4 linked regions of the Homo sapiens genome follow. The protein of the gene in region 3 interacts with the protein of the main gene of each other region in a pairwise test. Each region holds a gene or a part of one and is shown on either strand. Other genes may lie near its edges.

Region 1 (3,116 bases), on a different chromosome or scaffold from region 3:
AATGAGGGAGGAATGATCACTAGAGGAGAAGAGAAAGAATTGTCTCAGAGAGTGAAAAAGGGAATTTATTGGTAATTGTAAGATTTTACTGCGAGTACTGAATTCCTGTTTGAGATGTGTGGACATACACTCAGGGTGATACCAGTTAGCATGGTGTGTGCTGCCATAAGCAGACAGTTGAACTTGAATTAGGTTGTGGTTTTGCCAGGTGATTGTGGCAGAGGAGAAAAAGCAGTGGCAGTGCCACTTATATCCTTCTGTGAAATCTTCCTTTTTTTGTGTGGTGTAGAGCTAGCAAATGCCATTTACCTATTGCCTGGTACATTTTATGGTGCACAGAATTATTGTAGATTCCTTTTGGAGCTGGAAAGAACCTAAGAGAACATCTAATTCTGTGGTTTTAAACTGGGGCAGGGTTGGGCAATGTCATGTATCAGAGACGTGTGGAGAGCTTTTGACCTGGGAAACTATATCTTATTCTTCAGCTAGACTTGGAAAGAGAAGAGTCCCAAGAGGTGAAGTGAGTGTTGTCAACTGAGGAAAAGAGAATAAGTTGAATTCCTAGGGCCTAGGTCAGAGTATAAGGAGGTGGTTTTGATTTCAGAAAGAGCCCTGAGCCAAATAGTAGAAAAGCTTGTGTTCTTTGATTCAACCCATTTTCTTTTTTTTTTTTTAATCATCCTCAAAAGTTTTTTACTTTTTTTTCTTTCCAACTTTTATTTTTAGGTTCATGGGGTACATATACGAGTTTGTTACATGGGTAAATTGCATGTTGTGGGGGTTTAGTGTACAGATAATTTTGTCACCTAGGTAATCAGCATAATACCTGATAGGCAGTTTTTCAATCCTCACCCTCCCCCAACTCTCAAATAGACCCGGTGTCTTGTTTCCCTCTTTGTGTTCATGTGTACTCAATGTTTATGTCCCAAATAAATATATGGAAACATGGTATTTGATTTTCTGCTCCTGCATGAATTCACTTAGGATAATGGCCTCCAGCTCCATCCACGTTGTTGCAAAGAACATGATCTCATTCTTTTTTATGGCTGTGTAGTATTCTATGGTGTATGTGTGTCACATTTTCTTTATCCAGTCTACCATTGATGGGCATGTGGATTGATTCTATGTCTTTGCTATTGTGAATAGTGCTGCAGTGAACATACCCATGGATGTGTCTTTATGTGATTTAACCCATTTTATAAATGAAAAACTGATGTCCAGACAGGCCAGACAATTTCTATACACCCAGGTGGAAACAAAGCCAGGATTAGAGTTCCATGTCCCAACTCCATTGTGCATGTGTTGCCTCTCATTTTTCTTGGATCCCTGTATATTCTCCTAATTTGATAACTAATTGTTTCATGTGAGTTTTTCATTTTCAAAATACTAAAATTTTTACTTTCTGCTGATTGTTGCTAGAGTTAATGATTATGATTTCAATATCCTATTTTCCTTTTTTTTTTTTTTTTCTCTAACCCCAACTTTAGGGAACAGAAGTCAAAGCAATAACATATTCAGCAATGCAGGTCTATAATGAAGAGAACCCGGAAGTTTTTGTGATCATTGACATTTAAGACACCAAAAAATAAAAGACTCCTACGAAGAACTGTTTTTGTTTTCCTCTTCCTTTTGAGAAGACACTATGAATTAAATTCTACAGCTTTTTTTTGATATATGGAAATTTGTAGAACAGAAATATTTTAGTTAAAGTGTGACTTTCAGAAAGGGAAAATCAGGGCACAGCCTTGGTCTGTGTTCCCCAAATATTCACACTTTAAAGAATTCTTCAACCCCCCAAGGGACAGTTATGGTCCTTTGATTCTCTGCTGTGGCAGTAGGTGTGCCTCATGCCCTTCCAGTGCAATGCAAGCCCTCCAGCCTCACCCCAGAGAGGATCACTGATGTCAGCAGCAGCCTGAGGCTGAATCCAGGTTGAAAGAAGAATAACTTGAAAAAATATATTTCCACACACAGAATTTTGTTTTTCTTCCAAGTTGGTTAAGACATATATTTTGTTTCTTTTTTTTTTTTTTTTTTGAGACGGAGTCTCGCTCTGTAGCCCAGGCTGAAGCGCAGTGGTGTGAGCTCGGCTTACTGCAAGCTCCACCTCCCGGGTTCACGCCATTCTCCTACCTCAGCCTCCCGAGTAGCTGGGACTATAGGCACCCGCCACCATGCCCGGCTAATTTTTGTATCTTTAGTAGAGACGGGGTTTCACTGTGTTAGCTAGGATGGTCTTGATCTCCTGACCTTGTGATCCGCCCACCTTGGCCTCCCAAGGTACTGCGATTACAGGCATGAGCTACCATGCCCGGCCACAAGACATAGATTTTCTATATGCACATCAAGGGAGGTGCTGGTTTAGGTTGCTATAGGACAGAGCTATCCTGTATTCCAGTTGGTTTTTGTAGAGAAACAATTAGACTTCTCTAGATAGAGCCCTGATTTTTCTCTCACGCTTTCAGTTTTTTAAAAGCACTAATGATATTTCCTGTTTTCTCATAAGAAAAAGTCAATACTATGCCTTACAAAGAGACCTTTCCTTCTAATATAGAATTTTATTTGAAAGTGAGTACATGTTTATAACTAGAGAATAAAAGGAGAATTTTTGAAAAATTTCTTTATTGTTGTTTTTGTTTAACTACTTAAGCTATTCGTCCTTTTTTTTGAGACAGGGTCTTGCTCTGTCCCCCAGGCTGGAATGCAGTGGTGCAATCATAGCTTACTGTGGCCTCGAACTCCTGGGCTCGAGCAGTCCTTCCAACTCAGCTTCCCAAATTGCTGGAACTACAGGAATGCACCACCATACCTGGCTAATTTTTAAATTTTTTTGTAGAGACAGGGTCTCACTATGTTGTCTTGAACTGGTCTTGAACTCCTGGGCTCAAGTGATCCACCTTGGCCCCCCAAAGTACTGGGATTACAGGTGTGAACCACTGCACCAGGCCTAGCTATTTGTCTTTAAGGAGACAGGAGGCCAGGAAAACAACCTTAAAATGATCTGAACTCTTAAAGTAGATGACTTTTTAAAAATGAAATTTAGTTTGATTTGCACCTTTTTTCTTGTTTCTATTGATTGAGGTATTCTCTTTTGGGATCAAGAGTTTGCAAAGTTG
Region 2 (3,500 bases), on a different chromosome or scaffold from region 3:
ACTTATAAAGAAAAGAAAGGGAACTTTACCGCTTGTACCATTCTTCAGCCATGCTGTTCTCTCCCAGTGACCTGTAGAGTCTTCCCAAGTTCACCATGGCCACGTGATGACTGGGGCTAAGTTTGATGGCCTGCTGGTAATGGGCCACTGCCTTTTCTGGTAAGCCTGTAACCAGTGACAGGTTGGTAAGAGCAGAACATGCCTTTTTATAAAAGACATGAACATTTCACTTTCTCTTCTGACTTATAATTCTTTCTCATTATTACAGAGTTATACCAAAATTATTCAATATGCAAATTAGCTTGCATTTCAGCTTCTCATCCTGGCCATTGCCTAACTTTGAACAATTTCACTGTTCATTCATACTTCCAAAAAAATTAACAAAAAAGCAGTAAAAACTAAAACCTATTGTTTTAATTATATATATTATTTTAGTCGAAATTTTTCTGGTCATCGCTCTTGCTAATAGGATGCCTTCAGATTATTAGTGATTGTTATTTATCCAAGATATAACTGGCTCTCATTATATAAAAAATAGAACAGGCTACTGTAGAAATAAAACTGTCCAGAAGCAATTTCTAAGGGTCTGTCTCAATGAACTATACTTCAACATAGCAATTGAAGCATTACTTTAAATAACACATATCAGCTCTATAGTGAAAATCTCTTTTAAAATCATGCACTTTCATTTGAATGGCACTTAATTAATAAGACTTACAACATAATAATGCCACCATGCACTTGTCCAATGCATTATATATTTTTAAATACTTACATTTGTATGGTTTTTGCAGGTATTTTTTTATACAATTTAGCTGCCTTTTGATACTGTTTAGCTGTTTATCAGGATTTAAGAGATATTTAAAAAACCACACACAAAAATTTTCCACTTTACAGATATAGACACTAAAGTGCAAAGATATTCAACAGACTTGATAAAGATCCCAAGGCAAGTGAGAGTAAGGCCAGAAGCAGAATGAAGGCCCTCTACTCTGATAGGTTTCTTCAAAGTAGCTTCCTGGTGAAACTATATTCAGTAACTACACTTTAGAACACTGTGAAATTCTAAATAGAATGGAATGTCTATTATCTACACAGAAATCTTTTCAAGCGTATCTGTTTGAATACAAGTTTGACTAGGAGGTCCCTAGGAGCCTCTGTCTCTGGAGGCAGAGGCTCAATGTCATAGGGTGGTCACAGAGTTATCATTTTTAGGGGTGTGGTGGGGTGGGACTGTTGTTGAAGTAAAAGGAGGAGGGTTAGACCTGCCCAACTAGAGGTTTCTTCTAGTTTTTATATTTTTAAGACAGTTTATTATTATGTGGCCAATGAACCAGCAGGTGGCACTACACAACAATTTTACACAGGCAAAAATAAGGTAAGTTTCTTAGATGTATCAGAATGTAAATTTTATATTCTGTAAAACAAGAGAGCTCCAAATATCCTTGAAAATAAAACCCCTTTAAGCATTTCATATTGAAAAACTAATTAAACTAAATTTTGCTGCAGGGCAGCTAGTCTAGTAATCAACAAGAACAAAGTGGTGCTTTGGCCTTACATTTAAATATAATTTCATTACTTACATTGCATGCCAACAGTACAGAGGCACTACATAAGTCATAAAGAAAAGAGAATTCATGCCCAGTAATGTTTTGCATTAAGTAAGATAAAGTAAGTGTATTTTATATAGCACCTGTCATATAAGAGCATTGTATCAATTTTAATAATGCAGTTTCTAATGTACATCAAGGAAGGAATGATGGAACAATTCTGGAGGCTTTTAAAAAATATGTTATAGAAAAGTATTTACCATCTGCCAGTAACTGCTTTCAGAGGCAGGTTTTGCATCATTGTAGAGAAACATTTCATCATCATGGATTTATAAATATATATAAATAATATTCAAAGAAGATTGGGACTTATTAAATCATAAGGCTACTTCCTGTCCCCTGGGGAGTTTTCCATAGAGAAATGAGTATGAGAATGGCCAGATTTTACTGAATCGAGCTTGAAGATCTAGAGAAATGACAGCCCCGAGGTATAATGACTGTCAATAGTGTGAGCTTCCTGCCAAGCCCAGTGAATTTTACTTCTGAGGATTATTTGCCTTCCATTTTGCTTGATAAATTGTATTAGCTAATCTCAGCAGTACAGTTTCTCTTTAATTTCACTTACCAGTATCAACTAAGAAAACCCCATAGTTGTTGTGTAAATCTGAGCTGTCTGGACAGTTCTTTATTCCAGTTTGGTATATTTCTTCAGCTTCTTTAAACCGCTCCTTTAAAAAGAAAGAAACAAACAAAATAAGTGAGAAAGCTTTCTAAAACCAACAATAACTGAATATTAGGAGCAGGAAAAGCAAAAAAAAAATAAATCTTACTAAGCACCTAATATACAACAGGCTACTGAGATAAGGCACTATGAACTTTGTTTGAATTAAAGGCAATATTAACTGTGTACAAAATACCCAAAATTCATATCTGTATTTAGTTCCCTTAGGGCGAAAAAGATGATGTTTTCTCAAATGGGACCTTTGGAAGGATATGGACCTGTACAACATGCACGCCTACCGGGGAAAAAGGACTGAAAATAGTTGTTCGAATAGGATGCCCTTCACCCCGGTGACTCTCCATACGAAAACGGGGGATGCAAAAATGGTGGAATGTTTTCAGAGGTGGCAATGTGGTTGGGAGGCAGGGCAGTCTGGGGAATTTGTTTTCTAGCTGCATTTGGATAGATGACTCTCTTTTTATCTATATACTGTACTGCTTGTTTTGGGAAGTTTTTGAGGGAAGTAGAGAGGGGAGGCAGATGCAGATGTTGGGGAGGGCTCTGCCCTATCCTTTCATTACTTGAAGTATGTCTACAGCCCACCAGACTGGTGGCTACTTCCCATACTCAGTCCATGCTTTCCACCTCTGAGCTGCTCCCTCCAACAGGTTTATATGTCCCCTCAAGGGTGTACCTCCAACCTGTGTGGCAAGGTTCAGGTCGATCACCACATCTCTCATTCTAGGGCTCCAATTCTAATTGCCCTTGTGTTCTCTTTGTCTAAAGATTCACTTTAGCAAACTTTAGTAATTCTGAGTTACTTTTTAGGTACATTTTTCTTTTTCTTTCTTTCTTTTTTTTTTTTTTTTTGAGACAGAGAGTCTCACTTTGTCGCCTTGGCTGGAGTGCAATGGGGCGATCTCGGCTCACTGCAACTCCTGCCTCCTGGGCTCCAGTGATCCTCCCACCTCAGCTCCCTGAGTAGCTGGGATTACAGGCATGTGCCACCATGCCCAGCTAATTTTTGTATTTTTAGTAGAGATGGGGTTTCCCCATGTTGGCCAGGCTGGTCTCAAACTCCTGGCCTCAAGTGATCCGCCCGTCTTGGCCTACCAAAGTGCTGGGATTACAGGCATGAACCACTGCACTTGGCCCTTTTAGGCATATTTTTCACAACCATTAGAGACTGTTATGTCACACTTACTTTTACTATACAGAAGGTGAAATTA
Region 3 (3,500 bases):
CTTCATCTTTAAAATGAAAGGTTCAGAGTCAATGAATTCCCAGGGCCCCTTCCCCTAACATGTCACTAGGGGCTCTTACCCAGTGGTTATATAATGGCAAGAAGGTACCACTGCCTGGCTGGGCCGGGGGACAGGAAGATGAGGTGAATGGCAAGCCAGCCACTCACCTGCAAGAAGTCAGTCATGCCTTGGAGAAAGGCAGGGACACCAGGCATCGCCACAGTGATGGTGGGAGAAGCCACACCAGACCCTCCAGCCCCTGGCCCTGCAGGCCCTAGCAGGTTCCCCAGAAGCTGAGAGAACTGAAGATCAGCCATGGAGGGTTGAGGGGTGGGTGGAGGCTGGGCAGGCCCCCCAGGAGCGGGGCCAGCTGTGGTAGCTGTGTTGGTGGTGCCAGCACTGGCAGAAGCAGTGGCAGGGGCTGGCGGTGGAGCCATACCTGGGGTCCCCTGAGCTGTAAGAAACCAAAAAAAGAAAGCTGGGCTGAGCATGGTGGCTCTTGGCTGTAATCCTAGCAACTTTGGGAGGCCAAGGCATGAGAACTGCTTGAGCCCAGGAGTCTAGGCCACATAGCAAGACCCCATCTCTACCAGAAAAAAAAAAAGACAATTACTAGCCAGGAGCTAGTACTGCTAGCTACTCAGGAGGCTGAGGTGGGAGAACTGTTTGAGCCCAGGAGTTCAAGGTTACAGTGAGCTTTAACTCACTGGATTGCACCATTGCACTCCAGTCTGGGTGACAGAGCAAGACTCTGTAACTTAAAAAAAAAAGAAAAAAGCTGGCCGGGCACGATGGCTCAAGCCTGTAATCCCAGCACTTTGGGAGGCCAAGGTGGGTGGATCACAAGGTCAAGAGTTCGAGACCATCCTGGCCAACATGGTGAAACCCCCTTCTCTACTAAAAACATAAAAAATTAGCTGGGCGTGGTGGCGTGCACCTGTAGTCCCAGCTACTCAGGAGGCTGAGGCAGGAGAATCACTTGAACCCGGGAGGCAGAGGTTGCAGTGAGCCAAGATTGTACACTGCACTCCAGCCTAGCAACAGAGTGAGACTCCATCTCAAAAAAAAAAAAAAAAAAAAAAAAAGCTGAAACCTGAAGACACAAGACACTACAGCAGCCCCATTCCAGGAAAGCAGGAACCAAGAAAATATGGAAAGAACTGGAAAGTGCCAGTGAGCAGACTAGGAAAGGAGTTTAAACTCTGAGTGGGGAAGAATGAAAACTCACCCACAAGGACTGGCTGCATAAGAAGCTGCCCCACAAGGCCGCTCACCATCTGGGCCAACGAGGCATTGGTACCCAGACCGGCGCCCTGCTGGATAGAGAGCAAGGGAGAATTTCAGACCTGCCCTTCCATGCACCACCACAGGAGTCTCTCCCTAGACTGTTACGCACTAGAACTCCCCGACCCTTGCTCACCAGTGTCCCAGAGACTGGGGGCCCTCCAGGATGGGAAGGCCGAGCCTGTGGAGGAGTGGGCCGGGCAATCACCACCCGGGTTGGAGCTGTTGGGAAGCCTGGCACCTGCTGTCCTGTGGGTGGCAGAAGAGACAGACCGAAGAGGGCTGAGGGCCAGGCCCTTGCCAGCCAGCTGCCACCATGGACTGTGCCCTACCTCCCAAGCCTCCCCTTCCAGGTCATTACCTGCGGCCGCGGAGGCAACAGCTGCCACCATGGCCTGATGAGTGATCTGGTGGGCGACGGCGTGCATGAACTCAGGGGGCAGGGAGGGCAGCTGGATGAGGGTGGAGCCTGGGGGGCGGGTCTGATGTAACCTTGAACCTGGACCCCTTCAACCCACCCACTCAGCCCTTCCCTTTCTCTACCCAGAGCTCAGCCTGCCCTGATGCCCTCACTCTTACCCAGGGTTTGGCCATGACCAGGGGGTCCCAGGGGGCCAGTGGGAGCACTCGGAACACCACCAGGCTGTGTGCCAGAATCTGGGCAGGGAGACAGAGACAGTGGCCCTGAGGTAGGTAGGGCCAAGGCCTAACTATATCCTTCTGAGATCAGGCATACTTCAGGCCCATAATCCCCCAATCAGAAAGCCTGCCTTTCCCTCCATCTAAACAGGGAGAGGTACTCCCTTCACCACACAAACACACCTCCAAAGACAAACCAACCCCCACACCCCCCACATCTGTCTACTTAAGCTTCTGCTCTGGTCCCCAGGCTACCACCACCAGCATGTGCCTCTCCCTTCCCCACCCTGTTCCCTCACACCTCAGCATGAACCTCCCTCATCATGCTGATCCTGCTCTTCTCGCCAGCAACTATTCTCACCTTGAATGTTCATGTGCATCATGACCACGGGTTCCACACTCTGGTGGGAAATCCGGATGACCCTCGGGTGGCTGGTGGCTGGCGGGGGAGCTGGACCTGGCGGGGGAGCCCCCTCAGCTGAGGACTCGACATTGGTAGAAGACGGAGCCACGGATGAGGCCTGCCCAGGACCAGGGGGAGGTGCCTCTGCATTGGGAGTTGGGGGGGGCCGAGTCCCATTTCCTGTCATGGTCACAGTGGTTCCCACATTGATCTGAAAAAGACAGATGGACAGGCAGATGTGAGAAAAATACAAGAGCCTAACCAAGAAAACCTCATGATAAACCTCTAAAGTATCTCCAGCCTTCATCACCATGTTTCCAGTCTCCTCCTTTCCTAACCTCCTTCAGGCCCAGTAGCTACCCTGGGTCACTCTATCAACACCCCTCACTCTCCCTCAGGCCAGACTCCCCCTAACCCACCTGTATGGGAATGGCTGCCTGCTGGAGCACCATGGGGGTGGTGTAGTGAGACATAGGCCGGACCACATGCAGGTGTCGTGGGGGCGTGCAGGCCAGATTGCAGCGCAGGTCAGACAGTGCAACAAAGGTGTTGCCCAGCAGTCGCAGGCTCTCCCCTACCAAGTTGATCAACCGCTGATCCTCCTCCCGGCCCTCGTGCTGCGCACAACCAGCCAAACACAAAAAGGCAGAAAATATCAAGCTGGAGTCCATCTCACTAATAAAAGCAATAATGCCTACTGAGAATACCATGTCCTCCAAAACTTTCAGTTATATCCTTGGAAGTTTACATGTAGACCAAATCTTTGCAAATAAATTATATCTTATTCACATAAGGAACATCCTATTAAAACACTACTATGAATCAGTAAGTCATCATATACTGATCTCCTGTACTTTACATTTTCTAAATTCATTCAGGGGCACAAGGGGTACGATACGAGGACAGTGCTTACAGCAAAGATTATCACCTTCTCTGTAAGGGAGGACAAAATCACTTACAGGTTTAGAGAGAAATTGTTTTGTTGCAATGTGTGTTTTTTTGTTTTGTTTTGTTTTTTGAGACAGTCTCGCTCTGTCACCCAGGCTAGAGTGCAGTAGTGCAATCTCGGCTCACTGCAACCCCCTCCTCCCGAGTTCTAGCGATTCTCCTGCCTCAGCCTCCTGAGTAGCTGGGATTACAGGTGTGCACCACTACATCCAGCTAATGTTTATAT
Region 4 (3,500 bases), on a different chromosome or scaffold from region 3:
CAACAAAACAATTAACAAATGAGCTAATTTACACATACGGATTATTTATTGCACACTATGACTTCCCATAGACATCTTTTCAAGTCCACACAGAATGGTTAAATTGGTCTTATGCTTTGCCATAGAGCAAGTCTCAGCAACTTTCAAGACTGAAATCATGTAGACTATGTTTTCTGGCCACGGTGGAATTAAGCTAGAAATAAAAAATGGTAAATGACCAAATCTCAAAATGTTTGAAATTAAGCACTAGTCTTCTAAATACCTACAGGTCAAAAAAGAAATCACAATTAAACAGTATTTTAAACAGTATTTTAAAACGCAAAATTAAACAGTATTTTAAAATTTTTATTTATTTTCTTTTGAGACAGTATCTTGCTGTGTCATCTAGGCTGGAGTGCAGTGGTGTGATCACGGCTCACTGCAGTACTGACCCTCCAAGGCTTAAGTGATCCTCTTGCCTCAGCCTCCTGAGTAGCTGTGACCACAGGTGTGTGCTACCATGCTCGGCTTTTTTAAAAAATTTTTTGTAGAGATGGGGACTCACTATGTTGCCTAGGCTGGTCTCGAACTCCTGGGCTCAAGTGATCCTCCTGCCTCCACCTCCCAGTGTTGGGTCTATAGGTGTGAGCCACCATGCCTGGCCTAAAAAGTATTTTTAGTTCATTGATAATGAAAATATAACACATCAAAACTTATGAAACGCAATTAAAGTTGTGAATTGAATAGAATAATTTCACTTAAAAGAAATGAATAGCTATGAATGTATAAAAGAAGATTGAAAAATTAATGACCTAGGTTTCCATCTCAAAATGTGTATCTGTGTGTGTGTGTGTGGTGGGAGAATTAAGCCCAAATAAAGTAGAAGGAAAGAACTAATTAAAAAATTAATGACCTAAAAAACAAAGGTACAAAAGAGAAAACCAACAGAGTCCTAAGTTAGTTCTTTTAAAAGAATAAAAAAATTGATAGACTCCTGGCAAGGGTAATCAAGAAAGGGAGAACACAATTTATTGATATTAAAAATAAAAATAAGGACACCACTGTAATCCTACTGACATTAAAAAGATAGTAAAGGAAATTCTGAACATTGTACTGATACCATTGAAAATTTAGACAAGCTCTCCCTCTCCCTTTCCCTCTCCCTCTCCCCACGGTCTCCCTCTCCCTCTCTTTCCACGGTCTCCCTCTGATGCCGAGCCGAAGCTGGACTGTACTGCTGCCATCTCGGCTCACTGCAACCTCCCTGCCTGATTCTCCTGCCTCAGCCTGCCGAGTGCCTGTGATTGCAGGCGCGCGCCGCCACGCCTGACTGGTTTTCGTATTTTTTTGGTGGAGACGGGGTTTCGCTGTGTTGGCCGGGCTGGTCTCCAGCTCCTAACCGCGAGTGATCCGCCAGCCTCAGCCTCCCGAGGTGCCGGGATGGCAGACGGAGTCACGTTCACTCAGTGCTCAATGGTGCCCAGGCTGGAGTGCAGTGGCGTGATCTCGGCTCGATACAACCTCCACCTCCCAGCTGCCTGCCTTGGCCCCCCAAAGTGCCGAGATTGCAGCCTCTGCCCGGCTGCCACCCCGTCTGGGAAGTGAGGAGCCTCTCTGCCTGGCTGCCCAGTCTGGAAAGTGAGGAGCGTCTCTGCCCGGCCGCCATCCCATCTAGGAAGTGAGGAGCGTCTCTGCCCGGCCGCCCATCGTCTGAGATGTGGGGAGTGCCTCTGCCCTGCTGCCCCGTCTGGGATGTGAGGAGCATCTCTGCCCGGCCGCCCCGTCTGAGAAGTGAGGAGACCCTCTGCCTGGCAACCACCCCGTCTGAGAAGTGAGGAGCCCCTCCGCCCGGCAGCTACACCGTCTGGGAAGTGAGGAGCGTCTCCGCCCGGCAGCCACCCCATCCAGGAGGGAGGTGGGGGTCAGCCCCCCGCCCGGCCAGCCGCCCTGTCCGGAAGGGAGGTGGGGGGGTCAGCCCCCCGCCCAGCCAGCCGCCCTCTCCTGGAGGTGAGGGGCGCCTCTGCCCGGCCACCCCTACTGGGATGTGAGGAGCACCTCTGCCCGGCCAGCCGCCCCGTCCGGGAAGGAGGTGGGGGGGTCAGCCCCCCGCCCGGCCAGCCGCCCCGTCCGGGAGGTGAGGGGCGCCTCTGCCCGGCCGCCCCTACTGGGAAGTGAGGAGCCCCTCTGCCCGGCCAGCCGCCCTGTCCGGGAAGGAGGTGGGGGGGTCAGCCCCCCGCCCGGCCAGCCGCCCCGTCCGGGAGGGAGGTGGGGAGGTCAGCCCCCCGCCCGGCCAGCCGCCCCGTCCGGGAGGGAGGTCGGGGGGTCAGCCCACCGCCCGGCCAGCCGCCCCGTCCGGGAAGGGAGGTGGGGGGATCAGCCCCCCGCCCGGCCAGCCGCCCCGTCCGGGAGGGAGGTGGGGGGGATCAGCCCCCGCCCGACCAGCCGCCCCGTCCGGGAGGGAGGTGGGGGGGTCAGCCCCCGCCCGGCCAGCCTCCCCGTCCGGGAGGTGAGGGGCGCCTCTGCCCGGCCGCCCCTACTGGGAAGTGAGGAGCCCCTCTGCCCAGCCAGCCGCCCCGTCCGGGAGGGAGGTGGGGGGGTCAGCCCCCTGCCCGGCCAGCCGCCCCATCCGGGAGGTGAGGGGCGCCTCTGCCCGGCCGCCCCTACTGGTAAGTGAGGAGCCCCTCTGCCCGGCCAGCCGCCCCGTCCGGGAGGGAGGTGGGGGAGTCAGCCCCCCACCCGGCCAGCCGCCCCGTCTGGGAGGTGAGGGGCGCCTCTGCCCGGCCGCCCCTACTGGTAAGTGAGGAGCCCCTCTGCCCGGCCAGCCGCCCCGTCCAAGAGGGAGGTGGGGGGGTCAGCCCCCCACCCAGCCAGCCGCCCCGTCCGGGAGGGAGGTGGGGGAGTCAGCCCCCCGCCCGGCCAGCCGCCCCGTCCGGGAGGTGAGGGGCGCCTCTGCCCGGCCGCCCCTACTGGAAAGTGAGGAGCCCCTCTGCCCAGCCAGCCGCCCTGTCCGGGAGGGAGGTGGGGGGGCCAGCCCCCCGCCCAGCCAGCCGCCCCGTCCGGGAGGTGAGGGGCACCTCTGCCCGGCCGCCCCTACTGGGAAGTGAGGAGCCCCTCTGCCCGGCCACCACCCCGTCTGGGAGGTGTACTCAACAGCTCATTGAGAACGGGCCAGGATGACAATGGCGGCTTTGTGGAATAGAAAGGGGGGAAAGGTGGGGAAAAGATTGAGAAATCGGATGGTTGCTGTGTCTGTGTAGAAACAAGTAGACGTGGGAGACTTTTCATTTTGTTCTGTACTAAGAAAAATTCTTCTGCCTTGGGATCCTGTTGATCTGTGACCTTACCCCCAACCCTGTGCTCTCTGAAACATATGCTGTGTCCACTCAGGGGTTGAATGGATTAAGGGTGGTGCAAGATGTGCTTTGTTAAACAGATGCTTGAAGGCAGCATGCTCGTTAAGAGTCATCACCACTCCCTAATCTCAAGTACCCAGGGACACAAACACTGCGGAAGGCCGCAGG

Evidence for each region. The genes of interacting proteins can lie anywhere in the genome.
Region 1: the proteins of BAG6 (region 3) and ZBTB8OS interact in binary tests that used the Homo sapiens proteins (3 or more experiments, as listed by UniProt).
Region 2: the proteins of BAG6 (region 3) and TMTC1 interact in binary tests that used the Homo sapiens proteins (3 or more experiments, as listed by UniProt).
Region 4: the proteins of BAG6 (region 3) and GINS3 interact in binary tests that used the Homo sapiens proteins (3 or more experiments, as listed by UniProt).

Annotation. Positions count from the first base shown.
Region 1 is NC_000001.11:32,620,320-32,623,435, reverse strand, and holds the end of ZBTB8OS (protein archease), read left to right. Parts: intron 1-1,487; coding exon 1,488-1,574; 3' UTR 1,575-2,616; downstream 2,617-3,116. UniProt on the Homo sapiens protein: Component of the tRNA-splicing ligase complex required to facilitate the enzymatic turnover of catalytic subunit RTCB. Together with DDX1, acts by facilitating the guanylylation of RTCB, a key intermediate step in tRNA ligation.
Region 2 is NC_000012.12:29,518,443-29,521,942, forward strand, and holds part of TMTC1 (protein O-mannosyl-transferase TMTC1), read right to left. Parts: intron 2,622-3,500; exon of another isoform or gene 2,491-2,621; intron 2,279-2,490; coding exon 2,176-2,278; intron 1,379-2,175; exon of another isoform or gene 1,289-1,378; intron 166-1,288; coding exon 30-165; intron 1-29. UniProt on the Homo sapiens protein: Transfers mannosyl residues to the hydroxyl group of serine or threonine residues.
Region 3 is NC_000006.12:31,642,662-31,646,161, forward strand, and holds part of BAG6 (large proline-rich protein BAG6), read right to left. Parts: intron 2,944-3,500; coding exon 2,746-2,943; intron 2,538-2,745; coding exon 2,285-2,537; intron 1,969-2,284; coding exon of another isoform or gene 1,942-1,968; coding exon 1,864-1,941; intron 1,754-1,863; coding exon 1,646-1,753; intron 1,534-1,645; coding exon 1,421-1,533; intron 1,317-1,420; coding exon 1,229-1,316; intron 455-1,228; coding exon 168-454; intron 1-167. UniProt on the Homo sapiens protein: ATP-independent molecular chaperone preventing the aggregation of misfolded and hydrophobic patches-containing proteins.
Region 4 is NC_000016.10:58,395,471-58,398,970, reverse strand, and holds part of GINS3 (DNA replication complex GINS protein PSF3), read right to left. Parts: intron 1-3,500. UniProt on the Homo sapiens protein: Required for correct functioning of the GINS complex, a complex that plays an essential role in the initiation of DNA replication, and progression of DNA replication forks.